Linked DNA regions of Homo sapiens: region 2 is linked to region 1. The links come from fine-mapping of genetic effects on gene expression. A gene starts in region 1. The other region holds a variant in brackets. All regions are shown on one strand. Distances are from middle to middle.

Region 1 (5,382 bases):
GCCCATGGTCATATGGCTGGCAAAGTGCAGAGCTCAGCTACTCCTCTACAGCTCAGACTGGGCATTGAGCCTGCCTCAGCTAGGCCTCCTGGCTTCCCTGGGCCTCCTTCCAACTCTGCTTTAATCCTTTCCAAGCCCCTCTCCCCAGGGTCCCTATTGTGATCCACAAGTGGGTGGCCACACCTTATCTGAAGGCCTCCAAGATGGTGGAAACCCCTAAGCTTCCACCTCCTGCTTCCTACATCATCTCTGTGCTCCCTGGGGCTTCCTGGAGCAGTAAGATGGGAAGCATTATCAGCAATGGGGCCTCCTCTTCAGGCCTCTCAAGACTTCAATGCAGCGAACTGCCCTCATCTCCCCGAGTCTCTCCTCAGATCCAATTCTGGAGCCAGGAAGTGGTTTCTCCTCCCAAAAAGGCCGCCAGCATCCTGCATTACATGGTTAAATTTTGTCTGACCTTAGTGGGTGTTTTTAATTGAATAAAGAATTCAAGTCTGGGTTTTAAATGCCATAGAAAAATAAAAAGTTACTGTCTTTTCAGAATGCCCATTGTAATTTGTCCTTAGAGTTTCTCCTCCCCTCCCCTCCCCAATGGTCCTTTTCCCCCTTGAACTGACAAACTGAACTGCCAGATAAATACAGCTGCAAAGTGAATAGTATGGATATGATTTCTTCCCCTCATTCATTTGCCTTCCTAGCTTTACCAAGTCAAAAGAAAAAGACCGCTCACCCTTTCTTCGGCTGTGTCTTCATACCACAAAGCCAACAGCTAGTCAAGCAATCTTCATGATTTGAAACATTTGAAAGTGAAACACAGGGAGTGACTTAGCCTGATGGATTACATTAGTCATTGTAACCAAGTTTCTGCCATGGGGCTTACCCCATGCAGAGTGGTGGTCTCTGTGTGTCCTCTCTGTACCTCGGTTTCTCCATCTGTAATATGCAGGGATCGAATCCAGGATCTTTGAGGTCCCTGAATCTTCTCGATGTCTTCATTTTGTAGTTACAGAACACATCATTTACAAGTCAGTTGATTTAGAGGGTGACTTTGAATAAAAACAATCCTCCATAAAACTTTTACCACATAATTATTTTACGGAGCAAGTTTCCACTAGGCACTTGAAGCAGGGTTCAATTTACAAAAACCCGACTTGCAGCCAACTTTTAAGTGACACTTTTACTGTTTAAAGTGAGGCTTGCGCAGAGGTCACAGTTTCTAAAAACACTGCCCTCCATTCCCTCCTCCACAGAGTCCTTGACAGTGAAGCATTCGTAGAATACACTTTAAAATCATGACTTCTTGTCAACGAAGAGTTTTTCTTTTTCCCTTCCGTAAAAAACAACACACAGTATTTACAACCCCACAAAAACTGACTTAGTGATAATAACCTACTGGTCCTTTTGAAACACAAACCAGTTAATATCACTCCCCTGCCTGATTCTACAGAGGTGTCCCATTGCTCTGCAGATCATGAGCCAGACTTTATGTATGCCGTTCCCTCTACCTGGAGTGTTCTCACGAACCCTCTCTGTAACTCCTCCTTACCTCTGAACTCAGCTCAATCACTGCTACTTCAGGGAATTGGCCCCTGACTTCCTTGACTAGGTTAGATCTCTTTATTAGAACTGCAAGGTGCAACTGTAAGTTTATTTGGCTGGGCATGACCATGAATGGACTGTACACTCTGCTGTTGCTGGCATAGCCATCCAGGTTGCCCACTACATGCACAATGCTACACAGGCCCTGGGTTCCCTAGCGGGGTCTCTAACCTCGTGGACCTTGCAATCTTCTGGGGTAAACAGACAGTTATCAAATGTGAGAATGCACGTGAATGGCACTGTCCCCCGCAAAGAGTTTACAGAGAACTGAACAAGGGATTGAAGTTAGCATGGGGCCAGCTACATGAGCGAAAGGGTAGAATGGCAATGCTTTCAGCTCTGATGCAGAATGAGGTTATGTCAAAATCGCCTTTGCTCAAGCAGTCCTTTTAATACTTTCAGTCTAAGAAGCTAGAGGAGAAAGGAACGTGGACTGATATCCCAGGCTGTTCGTGCCAGCTTGAAGGATGGCCGCCTTCGCCATAGTGAGATAACCGGGGGTCTGTTTTCCTCATCTTCCTCCATCCCAAGGGTCTTCCTACTCTCTTGGACTAAACTATCCCACCCCAAGGCCAGGGGCTCTTGATTGCTTCTTTAAATGAATTTTCTTTTCCAAGGGCCCATCCGCTCACATCAAGTACACGAGTAACATAGCCTATCATTTTCATTTAATTCCAGAATGTCTTTACTATCATCCCCGTTTTACAGACAGGAGAATAGATTCAGCAAGTTCACAGCAGACCTGCGTTCTCAAAGCCAGGTGTCTGGTTCTCAGTCCAGCATTTCCCCCACCATGTCACAGCCTCGGGGCTGAGCCAGGCCTTTTTCAAAGCCCCAGGAAGCTAGAGCTGGCCGCCTCCTGCTGGCAGGGAGTTCCTTCCAGGCTTCTGGTGCTACTGCCAAAGAAGGGAGGGTGGGAGAAGAGAGGGAGGTGGATTATACACAGAGAGGGTCCCGCACTTCTGTTTCCCTTCCTTGTCATGGAAGGAGAGAATGAATTACGTGGGGGACCCAGGGGGATAGGAAAATCAATCATTCATGACAGTTAATAAGTGTCAGAAAAGTATGTACTCACATTCATCCCCTGAAAGTCACATTCTTCATCTGTTCTGATTTGTCTTTCACTGATGGCATTAGCCAGGTAGGCTCAGCAAGAAACATCAAAAGGTTTTAGCCCAATATTGTGGAGAGAGTTTCATTTAGCTTCATTTTTTCCAGCCGGGGCTGGCTCCAAAGCTAGTTTTTCTTACTAGGTTGTTTGCTACATGAAAAGCAGACTCCCAGAGGTTTCTGAGATTGCCGACATCCTATGCAAGATGACTGCTCCCACCCACCCGCCCACCCACTCACTAATAAGACATAATGCCGTCCTATTTTTGGTAACAATTAAAGGGCCTCCCGGTGAAAGCAGAAAGCTGTTTATTTTCTGTGACATCACTTCACTTTGCCTTCGAAGGCTGGTCTGTGCTCAGTGTTTTCGTGGTGATGCAAGTCGGCTCTCTCCTCCAGCAGTTGGATCCCTCCCATCTCACAGTACCTCACAGGTCTCTTCCCCCGAGCAGTGCATTGCTGGAGCGAGGAGAAGCTCACGAATCAGCTGCAGGTCTCTGTTTTGAAAAAGCAGAGATACAGAGGCAGAGGAAAAGGGTGGACTCCTATGTGACCTGTTCTTAGAGCAAGACAATCACCATCTGAATTCCAGAAGCCCTGTTCATGGTTGGGGATATTTTCTCGACTGCATGGAATCAGAAAGAAGCAAAAGGATGGGAAATGCCTGCATTCCCCTGAAAAGAATTGCTTATTTCCTATGTCTCTTATCTGCGCTTTTGCTGACTGAGGGGAAGAAACCAGCGAAGCCAAAATGCCCTGCCGTGTGTACTTGTACCAAAGATAATGCTTTATGTGAGAATGCCAGATCCATTCCACGCACCGTTCCTCCTGATGTTATCTCATTGTAAGGCCCGTAAGCATTTTGATATCTAATTTACGATTTAAAAATTCCAGCCGGTGGATTTGGGGCTTTGCATGTATTTGTAGAAGGGCATGGAGAGAGAGATTCCTCTTGCATGCTTGGCCATTTGACAGTGCTAACATTTGCTGCATTTAGAATTTTTGATTTTTTTAGCTGCTACTGAACATGCTTAGATACCCCCAGCCCTGAACATTATCATGAGAAACCTGTAGCCGATTCATTTCTCTTACTTCATCTGGGAAGGAATAGTATCGTACTTCATAAAATAGTGTCAAAATAGTCACTGTTATGCTAAACCGGATTAACATAAGGTTTGTTCTGTGTGTGTGTGTCTCTTTGTGTGTGTCTGTTTGTTTGTTTTCTCTTTTTTGTTTTCTTTCAGATCCTTTGTGAGATCTGGTTTTACTGAAATCTCAGAAGGGAGTTTTTTATTCACGCCATCGCTGCAGCTCTTGTGAGAAATATTTATATCATGACTATTTTTAATATGGCATATATTTGGATAAGCCTTCTAGTAAAATGATCTCAATATTAATTTTGTCAAATGTGATTCTATTTCTGAGAAAACAGAATATCCGTAAAGTGAGAGGTAGATGGGTTTGTTTGCGACTTCACACCAACAGTGCAGGTTGATTCTTACAATGGTAAATCTGTTAACCTGTCATGCTGTCTACTTTAATGGCTATTTATGAAGTTGTTGGAATCTTGCAACAATGATCCCAATTCCATTCCACTATTTTACTTTCATTTTTAACTTGGGAACTTGGGTTCTTTTGCCCTGGAGTTTTTGAATTAGTCAATACAGAACCCAGCATAACATATGCGCTCAAGATGTTGTCTCCGGGGATCTGGGGCAGGCTGCTACTCTGTATGATTTACCATGTGGGGAAAAAAAACACCTCAGCTCTTTCTAGGTAATTCCTTAAAATGTTAATTCTCAAGAGACTGTTTTTTAATCTCATCTAATTTATAACTAGTTCCATTACAAGGAGGGAAAGAAAATATTAATATAGGATAGTGCAAAGGATTACTCTCTGCTATATGTTTTGAGTTGGCCACAAGGGAACCACATACTCAGTCTATGCCTGAAAATATTCAAAAAAATAATATTTGACTAAGAAATCAGATCTGTTCACAGGCATAATGGAACACATAAAATTTGTTCTGATGTGTAATGTTTGGCAATTGGAGTCCTAGTCCTTACAGCGGTATCACATGGGGGTCAAGAGGTCTCCCAGGACTCAGGTATCAGGTCGCAGACTTGGTTTGTAGCTGGACGGATATGGGCAGAATTAGACAATTGTGGATCAGCTGAGTCTTGGCTATCTTAACTGCATGATTCAGGACCCAGGCCTTTCACTTGTTTGTTTTTTATTTTTTTATTTTCTTGCCTTACTTGGCCATTTTGGCTGTTTGAAGTTACATACACAGAGGCAAACAGCATGGAGTGGACGTTGGAGAGACAAGTGTTTAAACCTCACCCTGCCACTCATAGAACCTAAACATGTAGTCTTGTGCAGATTAGTATATCTCACTAAGCCTCAGTCTTCTTATCTTTAAAATGGAAGTGAGAACACATACTTCCAAGGTTTAAGTAGATAAAACACTTGGCATAGGGTGTGCCAAATGCTTACACATTTATAAATGGTAGGGTTTAAAAATTTTATATCAAGCTAAAAAGCTAAAAGTCACTCATCTATTGTTTTGTGTATATGAAATTCCTAAACTGGTTTGACTGTTTCATTGGATTCACAAACTTGATCAGTTGTTTTGACATTATGTAATGATGTTGGCTAATGCCCTTCTACTGG
Region 2 (5,382 bases), 46 kb before region 1:
ATTACATAAAAGACATAAACCTAATAGAAAAATTCTCAAAAGACTTGACCAGAAAATACACAGACGAAAGATAGCCAAATGGCCAATGCACATAAAACAAAGCACGCATCTTTACTAGTTATCAGATAAATATCAAGTAAGCACACCACTACCACTACACACCCATCAGAATGGCTAAATGGAAAATACAAATCTGGTGTTGGAGAAGATGTGGCATGACTGTGACTCTTATATGCTGGTGATGGGAGTGTAAATTGGTACAGCTACCTTGGAAAAGATGTTTGATAGTACCTTGTACCTACTAATGCTGATCGTGCCTATCCTAGGTTTCATCAATTCCACTCCTCAATGTATTTCCAACAGAGAAGTGTATATGTATTCACTGAAAGACCTGAACAAGAATGTTCATAAGAGCTCTATTTGCATATAAAAATCCAGAAACAACCCAAATGTCCATCAGCATTAGAATAGTTAAGTAAAAGGTGGTTTATTTGCACAGTGGAATACTATGCAGCAATAAAAATCAACAAACTACAACTACGTGCAACAGCATGGATGAATCTCATGAGTATTGAGCTGAGCAAAAGAAGCATTACATATGAAAAAGAGTACATACAACAAATCCCATTTATATAAAAGACAAAACCAAATAAACAAAATGACAACTATGTGAGGTAATGTATATATTAGTTAGCTAGATTTAGTCATTCCACATTGTATATGTACTTCAAAACAAGATGTTGTACAAGGTAAATACTTATAATTGTATATGCCAATTCAAACAAACAAACAAAAGTAATCTATCTTGTTCCAAGTTAGGATAGTGGTTTCCCTGATGAGGGAGGGGAAGGGACTACAAAGGGATACAAGGAAGAAGGGGTGGCTTCTGAGGACATGGCAAAGTTCTGTTTCTGGTCCTGGTATTGGTTACATGAGTGGTTCATTCACAACCATAATTTGTGCACTTTTATGTATGAGTGTTATAGTCAATAAAAAGTTTACATTAAAAAACTTAATTGCTCCTAGGGGTTTTTAAAACTTTGGTAAATGGAAGTTTTGGTGATTTAAGCAACTTCAGGCGTGAAAGAACAGATTAGGAAGTGGATAGGTGGAATTTTCTGGGGCCTTGGAAATTATGCCACAGAAGTGCTTACATACTCAAAGACAAATTTCCTGTAGGCATTGAGACAGAGGCCTGCGGGAGCTCTGTAAATGCTGAGAAAGACTCTAGTCAGCATCCAAAGGACTGAAAGTTCCCGGGCCTTGAACACTTGGCAAGGTCAGCCTGCACTTTCTGTATATTTATAAGCTCAGATCTGGAAGAAGGTAGCTCCACACCTGCATGGTAAAGCTCGGTCCTTGAATAGAGACACAGCCCAATAGTGATCTGCAAGCTGGCCAAAGGTCAAGCCCTTGCTTGTGGAAATGGCTGGAGCAGGCTGCCAGAGAGGTTGCACTGCACAAATTCTGTGCCTGGAATGGACATTGGGAAGCAAAAGTGGAGAGACAGCAGTATACCAATTAGCCAAATGAATTGATTGTCATTTTTGGCCTGCTCCCAGGAGATGAGAACAGAGACAGGATGTCTGGTAAACCCCTCTCTGAGACAGTTGTGGATAAGGAGCCTTGTGATTAAGAGATAGGGAGACACTTACCGGGTCAGATGAGATGAGAGGCAGAAACCAGGAATGCTAAACATCACCGGGAAACTGATGCTGTTATTTTCTGTCATATAATATCTGCAGGTATGACGGTTTCATGCTTCACTTAGGAAAATGCAAAGTGGGGAGACCTACTGTAATAATCAAGGTTGAAGAGTGCTGTGTCTCTAGATCATTCCTCAAGGCCTCGCTGGGCCTGGGGCTATAATCATGGGAAAGACATCATTCCCATCTTCAAGACTCACCTCTAGGTAGGACACAGACACAGAAACAAGTAATTACAATACAATGGGGTGGGCAGTAATAGGAACAGGCTCAGAAAGCTATGGGGACACTAGGGAGGAGCCCCTAATCCTAAGAGAGAGCAGGAAAAGGCTTCAGAGACAGGACTTTACACTTGTGTTCACAATGCTGAAACCACAGTTTAACTCTGGGCTCCAAATTGTGCTGCCTTTGCGTCCAAAGGAGAGGGAGATATAGGACTTCCTTTCAGGCCTCCCACACTCACCAGTGATGCCCCACAGCCCCTCTCTCTATATAAGGTATAAGCAAGCTCCAAGTAGGAGTTGACCATATCACATGATTTCACAGTTTATGAACACCAAGTTGACCATGCAGACAGTGTGCTGGGATGATCAAGTAAAATGTACAGTGAAGTAGGTCATGTGTTTAAGGATACATGTCATGATTATTATGTAGTCAGGCAATTCGAAATAAACAGTAAGTAATTTTTCTAAATGATGCCTTGATTAACAAATTATCCGAAACTAAAATCTCTTTGGCTAGTTGTCCTAGTACTGAAAGTGACAATTGGTGGTAGGAAATAGAAATACTTAAACACCCACAGAAAATATAAAAGACTGAATAGATTCACGGAACAGTGGTGATTAGAAGATGGAATTTGTACTCCTCCTCACTTAGGCTGTATAAAAGTAACAGCACTC[A/AAAGT]AATACTTGTATTCATAAATAGAACTTTTTAAATAACAAATTTTATTGTCAGAACTTTTGTTGAACAGTGTAGGAGCATACAATAGAAACACAGGCCAGAACTGCTGGAGCAATCTACTTTTCAGGAGAAGTTAGAAATTTGGATTTTTAGATTTAGAAATTTGGATTTTTAGATTCAATATCCTGATTTTTTATATAGGCATCTAATTCAAGTTTAAAAATCAAAGCAAAACACCCTGTGGAAAAAACACTTCTGTGAGCTGAATTCAGCCCATAGGTTGCAAATTTCCAAGGCGATGATTCATTTCCCTCAGGACTGTGCCTTTAGCGATGGTGGTTTGGAAGCAGAGGTTATGACGCTGTCTCAGATGCATCTCTTGGGGGTTAGACAGGCTGCAGGTAAGCCAGGCATGGAGGCATGTGGACACCTTCAAGGGAAAAGTCAAAAGTCTTAAGCTCCCAGGAAAAGAGCCTTGAGACCCAGACCACAGCAAGGGGCAGTTCTTAAGTTCCTGGGCAGGAATATCAGTGCTGGTTGAGAAGATGAAGGTGTCACCCAGACTGGAGGGATGGAATTCACATCCCAGAGCACGTTGACAATATTGAATTTCACTGAAGCCCTTTGCTCCTGGAAGACAGTGATGGGTAAAGTAAACCCCTCCCATCCCCCCACACCAACCTTTTTTTGCACGTTCTAGAAAACAGCTTACTGCAAAAAACTGAGGTAGGAGGTGGGACTCAACTCTGGAGGTGGTGCTTGGACACTGGACCATATTGAGGACTAGCTAAAAGAGGGACAGAGCAGAAGCACCTCTCCGTAAGGCACGCCCACCTGTGTGCCATGTCAGTTTACCATTGCCATGGCAACACCCTGAAGTTACAGCCCCTTTCAGTTACAACTTGATGACCTGGAAACTACCACCCTTTTCCTAAAAATGTCTGCATAATCTGCCCCTTAATTTGCATGTAATTAAAAGTGGGTATAAATATGACTGCAGACTCGCCTTTGAGCTGCTACTCTGGGCACACTGCCATTGGTACCTCTGCTGCTGCTGCCAATGCTGGAACCTGCTGTGTCAATAAAAGTTGCTGTCTAAAACCACCAGCTTACCCTTGAATTCTTTCCTGGGTGCAGCCAAGAACCCTCCCCTGCTAAGCCCCAATTTTGGGACTCATCTGCTCTGCATCAGAACGACTCTTTCTCATATGACTTAGATAAGATGCACAGATGCCCTGTGTTTAACCTATGGCAAAATTAGATACAGACCGAACAAATTCTCATTCCTTACCTGATAAATGATGAGCTGAACTGCTTGTCCCCACTGAGCAATTGAACAAAATGCTTGTTAACCAAACTTTGATTCAATTTCTCTCCTTCCCCTAAGCCCCTGCACTTTGGCCCACCCCCACTCCCAGCCTGAGCCAGCACACAGCCCATCCTGAGAACAGGCTGGCCTCAGAGTAAGACATTGTATGGCCTACTATCCCATCAGGCCACCCTTTCATTCCCTTTTCCCACACCCTGTTGTTTTTAGCCTTGGTTACTTTTCTCTGTTCAAGAGACAGTCCCTTTCTTAAGGTCTCAGTATTTTCCCCATTGCAATAGTACACTTCCCCTACTGCAATAGTCCCTTTCTCTCCTGTAGTAATCTTTTTAAATAAAAGGTTGTCCTCACTAAGTGCAGATTTGCTTTTTACTTGGCAGTGTTCTTATGCATCCTATCCTACTTAGCAAAATTTCTGACAATAAGCATGCTGTCGGCCAGACGTGGTGGCTCGCACCTGTAATCCCAGCGCTTTGGGAGGCCAAGGTGGGCGGATCACAAGGTCAGGAGTTTGAGACCAGCCTGACCAACATAGTGAAATCCCGTCTCTACTAAAAATACAAAACTTAGCCAGGCATGGTGGCATGCGCCTGTAATCCCAGCTACTCAGGAGGCTGAGGCAGGAGAACCACTTGAACCTGGGAGGTGGAGGTTACAGTGAGTTGAGATCACACCATTGCACTCCAGCCTGGGTGACAGAGGGAGACTCCGTCTCAAATAATAATAATAATAATAATAATGAAGAAGAAGAAGAAGAAGCATGCTGTCGTGCTGCTGCTGTTGAAAACATTCTGTGTATGACCAGAACCATTATGTATAGGGTGCTGCCCTCTCACATGGCAAAAATTAAGTAGCAGCTGAATTGACCCCAGGTTACTGGACAGGGAGTGGCTAGAGGGCAAGAGTAAGGCCAGTAGTCCCTCTCGGCCTCCATGTCCCCACACTCAGTTCTCTTCTTCAGAGACTGCCTTCTCAGGCCCCTGCTGTTCTGTGGGGCTGGGATTGGTTGTTCTTTTCTATCTTATGCTATCAGCCATTTCCATGGCTCAAAGGACCATCTGCATGCCAATGTGTCCCAGTTTATATTAATACCTCCAGCCCAGACGTCTTTACTGAGCTCCAGACTCCCATAGTCACCTCCTCACTTAACATCTCCTCATGGCTGTCTCCAACTTAATATGACAAAAACTGAACTCTTACCTTCTGCTCCAAACTAACCCCACTTCTGAGACAGAGCAGAGGCCCCTCTTAGGCGCCTGCCATCAGTTGGAACTGATGCCCCAACTCAGTCACCTCTACCTTTTCCATGGTCACACAACTAGTAACTGAGCTGAAATGTGAACTAGGCTGCAAGACTAGGCCCCAAACCCCAGCGTAGAGATAAAGGAAAAATTTTGAATCCCTTCAAGGCAGATTCCAGGCACCTTTCAACCAGCAATTAGAGAAGTAAAT

Alleles and levels. Positions count from the first base shown, and alleles are read on the strand shown. Sizes are in standard deviations (SD) of each study's normalised expression.
For the expression in tibial nerve of the gene that starts at base 3,130 in region 1, AAAGT is the low allele of the variant in region 2 and A is the other (small effect, 0.26 SD a copy in GTEx).

Evidence for each region. PIP is the estimated chance that this variant, and not a neighbour inherited with it, causes the effect.
Region 2: its variant is the best candidate, but not a certain one, in a credible set for the expression of LGI1 in tibial nerve (GTEx, PIP 0.64).

What each region holds. Positions count from the first base shown.
Region 1 is chr10:93,754,807-93,760,188 of GRCh38, forward strand. It overlaps LGI1 (leucine rich glioma inactivated 1), which reads left to right and starts at 3,130. Exons shown (of 8, transcript NM_005097.4): 1 at 3,130-3,553; 2 at 3,954-4,025. The coding sequence starts at 3,339. It overlaps LOC101927013 (a long non-coding RNA gene), which reads right to left and starts at 2,911. Exons shown (of 3, transcript XR_246160.5): 1 at 2,675-2,911.
Region 2 is chr10:93,709,134-93,714,515 of GRCh38, forward strand. No RefSeq gene overlaps it. Among named protein-coding and RNA genes, the nearest start is that of FRA10AC1, 9.2 kb to the left of the region's middle. RefSeq lists a silencer at 5,352-5,382. The variant A/AAAGT (reference allele first, on the strand shown) is at 2,606.